Homo sapiens: one gene and its partner. The protein of the gene in region 2 purifies or fractionates together with the protein of the main gene of each other region. This does not show direct contact. Each region holds a gene or a part of one and is shown on either strand. Other genes may lie near its edges.

Region 1 (3,500 bases), about 36 Mb from region 2:
TTCTTTCTGTATTTAGCTAAGTGTTCCTTCTTTAAAGTGCTTTAATTTTAAGGTACAGGGTCTCTAATCTGACTATGTATCAGTATCACCTGAAGAGCATTTTAAAGCTCAAGTTTCTAAGAAATATTTTCTGAAACAGAAATCTCCAGGGGTTGAGCAGGAGAAATTAAAAACAGCTCCACACAGTTTATTTTGATGTTCAGGCATAATGACTTAGGCTACAGACTAACGGTTTCTCTTATGCGATTATTGTACTTTACAGATTCTAAGCCATTAGCAGATTAAAATATACTATTTACCTCAGAAAGGTAGAGGGAGCTTGCTGCGTCTCCCCCATTACAACTGTAGCTTAACAGCTACTGCTTATATCTCTGAGAACTTCTCACACTCTGTTTTTGGCTCTTTCTAAATGCAAATTCTTTGGGATAAATATTATGTGAAAGAATTTAAACAATAAAAAATAAATTTAAATAAGTGAAAAGCAACAATTTAGAAAGTCCCTAAACAGCACATTTCAGTAGAGTACCCTTATTTCAGCACCAATGAAGATAAGAGTTAACTAAACTTGCCAGGTGAGTAAATAAGGATGGTTGGCAAGGAAGAAAAAAAAAGAAGTAGGGAAGTGAAAGAGGAAGAACAAAAAGAAGAGGAGTAGGAAAAAATAAGTGTCTGTCAATACTTGTTTCAGATGCCATGCATGTTGCTATAATGAACTTCCCTGGTCTACATTAAAAATCAGTAATCCGGCCAGGCATGGTGGTTCACACCTGTAATCTCAGCACTTTGGGAGGCTGGGGTGGAAGGATCATTTGAGGCCAGGAGTTCAAGAGCAGCCTGGCCAACATGGCAAAACCCTGACTGTATCAAAAATAGAAAAAAATTAGCTACACATGATGGTGTGTGCCTGTGATCCCAACCACTCAAGAGGCTGAGGTGGGAGAATGTTCCTTGAACCTAGGAAGTGGAGGTTGTAGTGAGCTGAGATCACGCCACCTCACTCCAGCCTGGGTGACAGTGAGACCCCATCTTAAAAAAAGAAATTAGTAATCTACAATGGCATCTTATTATTTATTTTCCCCTTTCCATCACAGATTTGTTGTTATGCTAAGAATATACTTTAAACTACTGAAATTGTCCATCTTTGAATGCCATGCTTAAAGCAATTAGTGGTAAGAAATACTTATAATTTAACTAAGAACAAACTTACCTGAACTTTAACTTCCTGGTGGCTGAGCAGAGGAACCAAATGAGGAACTATTCCAGAGTCTATTACCATCTGTATTTGTTCATTGCCAGCATCAGTAAGGTAAGAGAGGGCCCAGACTGTGTCTACCAGTATCTAATGAATAAAATAAAAATTCAAACAACTTTTAAATATTTTCTCATTTTAGTAATTCTTGACCAAACAACCATTCTAAAATTGTTCAACTACCTTCTTCCTTCTTTTCTTCTCTCAGTTTAATTCATTGGAATCTGATCGCTACGGTATTAAACATCATCATCTATAAATGTCTGTACTAAGACGTACATCTTTTAGCCATATTCAGGATTCTGATCCCAGATTAGTATCCAATCTTAGTTCACTAAGATACACACGCACACTACACAGCTCATAAAACAGGAGAAAAAGACATTCTCTTTCCCAAAGGCTGAGGGATAACAGGTCCAAAAACATTGTGGCTCATGTATAAAGCTGGAAAGACTACATGTATCCAACATGCACAGTTGTTCAAAACATCTGGGCTAGATGAATATATTCAAGGAGTTCTCTAGTATTGTAAGTACCATGTAGATATGCCTAAAGCCAATAACCCAAGTATTCATATTGTAGTATAAAATACTTTAATCTTTTCCAACCAGTTTGTTTTGCCTTACAGAACTGGAGACAACTTTTTTTTTTTTTTGAGACGGAGTCTCGCTCTGTCGCCCAGGCTGGAGTGCAGCAGCGCGATCTCGGTTCACTGCAAGCTCCGCCTCCCGGGTTCATGCCATTCTCCTGCCTCAGCCTCCCGAGTAGCTGGGACTACAGGCGCATGCCGCAACGCCTGGCTAAGTTTTGGCATTTTTCAGTAGAGACGGGGTTTCACCGTGTTAGCCAAGATGGTCTCGATCTCCTGACCTCATGATCCGCCCGCCTCGGCCTCCCAAAGTGCTGGGATTACAGGCGTAAGCCACTGCGCCCGGCCAGCAACTTCTTAAATAGTGGAAGTCCCCTACAGCTGCAGATCAAGACATTAAAATAATCATAGGTCAATCTGTGAGACCTGTAATTAAAACAAAAAATACGTACTTCACTACAGCTGCTACTTATGAAAAAAAAAAAAAAGCCTGTGTAATCAACTTCTACTAAGTAGCCTACCATTTTTTTTAACGATTACATCTTTAAGTACAACAGGCCATGTGTTTGATCTTTCCTAGTACGTTAGGTCCTAATTAGAAGTTATGACCAAAGGGCAGTATGACAAACAACTGTAACTGCTGCAAATAAATACACAAATTATTGACAAAGACATGGGAATAATAATTGTGCCTAAAACTACTTCCAAAGCCTTTCCAGAATATGAACTCTGTGTCAAGACAAGCTGGAGAAGTGTAAAACCTTTAAAACAATAAACTAGGCAGGGAGTAGTGGCTCACGCCTGTAACCCCAGCACTTTGGGAGACCAAGGCAGGTGGACTGCTTGAGCCCAGGAGTTACAGACCAGCCTGGGCAACACGGTGAAACCCCGTCTCTATGAAAAACAGAAACAATTCGGCATTGTTTATTTTTTCTTGTTTTTATGACCCTGACTTTAAAAAAATCGTAAAACTGTAAACTAATGTTATGCTTAGGACACCCAAGAGAAAATAAAAAAATAAGATAAAAAAAACCAAAAAGACACCCCGAAACTCCTAAAAGGTGAAAATAATGCTTTGCCATTGTTTCTTAGGAAATTCAAGAAAGCTCTAAGGATATTTCTAATGTAAAAAGAAGACATCAAATGAGAGTTCGCACAGGCTGGGTGTGGTGGCTCACGCCTGCAATCCCAGCACTTTGGGGGGCCAAGGTGGGTGGATCACGAGGTCAAGAGTTCAAGACCAGCCTGGCCAACATAGTGAAACCCTGTCTCCACTAAAAAATGCAAAAAAATTAGCCAGGCGTGGTGGCGGGCATCTGTAAACCCAGCTACTCGGGAGGCTGAGGCAGGAGAATCGCTGGAACCCAGGAGGCAGAGGTTGCAGTGAGTGGAGATCATGCCACTGCACTCCAGCCTGGGAAACAGTGCGAGACTCTGTCTCAAAAAGAAAAAAAAAAGAATTCACATAAAAAAATGGTATCAATATATGTGAAAAAACCTAAATTTCAATTTGCAAATGTAACTGAGTTTCTTTTCTGGAATATTAACATATGCTAAAATTTGTTGACATAGGCCAAAAATTTCAAGTTACTTGCTCATAACTGTATATAAAAGCTAGATACATGTTTTTAAAGGACATGTCACTAATATGCTCAGATCAAA
Region 2 (2,312 bases):
GTGCATATGTCCTGCTTGAAATGTTCACATTGTGGCATCTGAACAGGTTTCACTGTTTGTCTAACATGTTTGTGGGAGGCATATTTGTTACACCATTCTTTTCCATACTGTAACTCTGGATTCTTTCCATTAAAGGTTCGGGATGAGTATCGGCAGGACTACGATGCTGGGAGAGGAGGCTATGGAAAACTGGCACAGAACCAGTGAGTGGTGAGAGCTCTGTCAGTGACAAACACTCCTTTGGCCTGTTGAATTTGCTGAAGAACATCACCTAAAGTCTGCACACGAGCCCATTTTTACCAAGATTTGATCAGTGTCTTTACTGAGCTGGAAGCCTCTGAAAGTTATTAAAGGACAGAATCCAAAAGAATGCCTTTAATTCTTGTCTGAGAATCTTGGCCATGTGTCAGATTATCAGAACAATTTTGTTACCAGGTCAGAAATTGTGTTCTTTGACAACAGATTGGATCTGTAATGTTGATTAGTCTTTAGCCATAACCACTACACTTTTAGAAAGACAGAAAAATGTAAGAATTTGTTTTTACCATAATGAGTCTTAAGTAGGTTCATGATCTACATTGGGGCCTGGGATTATTTTTTTAATTTTAAGTTTGCATGAGATAGCCTAATAAATGGAGGTGGGGCCAGGCATGGTGGCTCACACGTGTAATCCCAACACTTTGGGAGGCTGAGGAGGAAGGATAGCTTGAGGCCAGGAGTTTGAGACTAGACTGGGCAACATAGCAAGACCCCGTCTCTACAAAGCACAACGAAAAACAACAAATGGAGTTGTGCTATGTTGTATTGCTTTGCACAAAATTAGGAACAGGTGTTTGACAATTGAATTTGTTTTCTGTGAATTCTAACCTCTAAAGGCATGCTTAGAGGTCAAGGACCTTCCTGTGTAGTTGGTGCAAAAGCAATCTCCACAGGACAGCACTGCTTCCATGCTTCATACATCAGGAAATGAGGCCAGAACTTGAGTATTTACTAACACGTTTTTCAAAAGATGTCAGTGTTATACCTAAAGCTAAAAAAAAGCAAGGGTTTGTCATAGAGGGAACCTCTAAATAATTTCAGGGGTAGGGGAGATGTTGTCAATAGGAAATGGGATAAAATATCAAGAGACAATGAAAACACTGCCTTGACATGAGGACCAGCAAGTTTATTCTTTTCATTTTCAGTGATGTTGGGAATGGACTGGGTTTTAAAAGGGAGCTTGAAGAGGGAATGTTTGACAGTCACAGAAGGTTCCTGCAGCAGATGCCTCTTTTAGCCATTTCTCATTTTTTTCCTCAAATTTTACCTACTGAGGCTCAAGCCTTCACAGTGAGCTGATGGTCTCTACAGGGAGGGGAGTCTAGGGAATTTATTTGGTATTTGTAAGGCAAGAGGTGATTTCTCTCTAATATATCTGAGTTATTGCTCATTTAAAACTGTTAAGTCCAGTATAATTTTCCCTGATATGAAAAAATGTGCATTTTTTTCACTTAGCAACAAAGTACCTTCTAATTTCCAATAGTCCGTGAAAGTTGGGGCTGAAGTACCTAAGTGTGAATGTCTCTCCCGTTAAACTGAGTGTAGAAATCTGAATTTTTAAAAGAGCTGTAACTAGTTGTAAGTGCTTAGGAAGAAACTTTGCAAACATTTAATGAGGATACACTGTTCATTTTTAAAATTCCTTCACACTGTAATTTAATGTGTTTTATATTCTTTTGTAGTAAAACAACATAACTCAGATTTCTACAGGAGACAGTGGTTTTATTCGGATTGTCTTCTGTAATAGGTTTCAATAAAGCTGGATGAACTTATCGTTGTTGCTGCCTGTTTCCTGGCCTATAAAGAGGGTTGTGTTCTGGAATTCCTGTACTCTGGATACACATGAATGAGTTCCAGGGGGATTCTATGAATAGTGTGGACAATTCGCGTGTCCATTTTGATTGACTGACAGTTGGAAATAACTATTGCTGCGTGTGAAGAGAGCGCACAGATTTTCTTGTGAAAGTGATCAAATAGGCACCAAGCAACCTCTACTGATGGAAGAATAGGTTAGTTTTCCAAAAAACATGCTCTGGATGATTGCAAGGGAAGGGAAATTGTGGGTGGATTAAGAACATCTTATGTTTCCTGGGCTAGAGAACACTAAATGTGAGTCTCTTTACTGCACCATTCTTTCCTATTTCTCATGGATAGCATCTGACCTGTTTCTCACTTTAATCGGAGAAAAGTGAAAATTCAAACGTACAGATGAAGGCATCACTATTAATACATGTTAGTGAAGTGTGAGAATTAAACATTCAGTTTCTCAGTCA

Evidence for each region. The genes of interacting proteins can lie anywhere in the genome.
Region 1: the proteins of NCBP2 (region 2) and KPNA4 purify together in Homo sapiens (affinity purification with mass spectrometry; 2 studies listed by BioGRID and IntAct, with this or other methods). This does not show direct contact.

Annotation. Positions count from the first base shown.
Region 1 is NC_000003.12:160,520,572-160,524,071, forward strand, and holds part of KPNA4 (importin subunit alpha-3), read right to left. Parts: intron 1,340-3,500; coding exon 1,208-1,339; intron 1-1,207. UniProt on the Homo sapiens protein: Functions in nuclear protein import as an adapter protein for nuclear receptor KPNB1. Binds specifically and directly to substrates containing either a simple or bipartite NLS motif.
Region 2 is NC_000003.12:196,934,906-196,937,217, reverse strand, and holds the end of NCBP2 (nuclear cap-binding protein subunit 2), read left to right. Parts: intron 1-135; coding exon 136-207; 3' UTR 208-1,812; downstream 1,813-2,312. UniProt on the Homo sapiens protein: Component of the cap-binding complex (CBC), which binds co-transcriptionally to the 5' cap of pre-mRNAs and is involved in various processes such as pre-mRNA splicing, translation regulation, nonsense-mediated mRNA decay, RNA-mediated gene silencing (RNAi) by microRNAs (miRNAs) and mRNA export.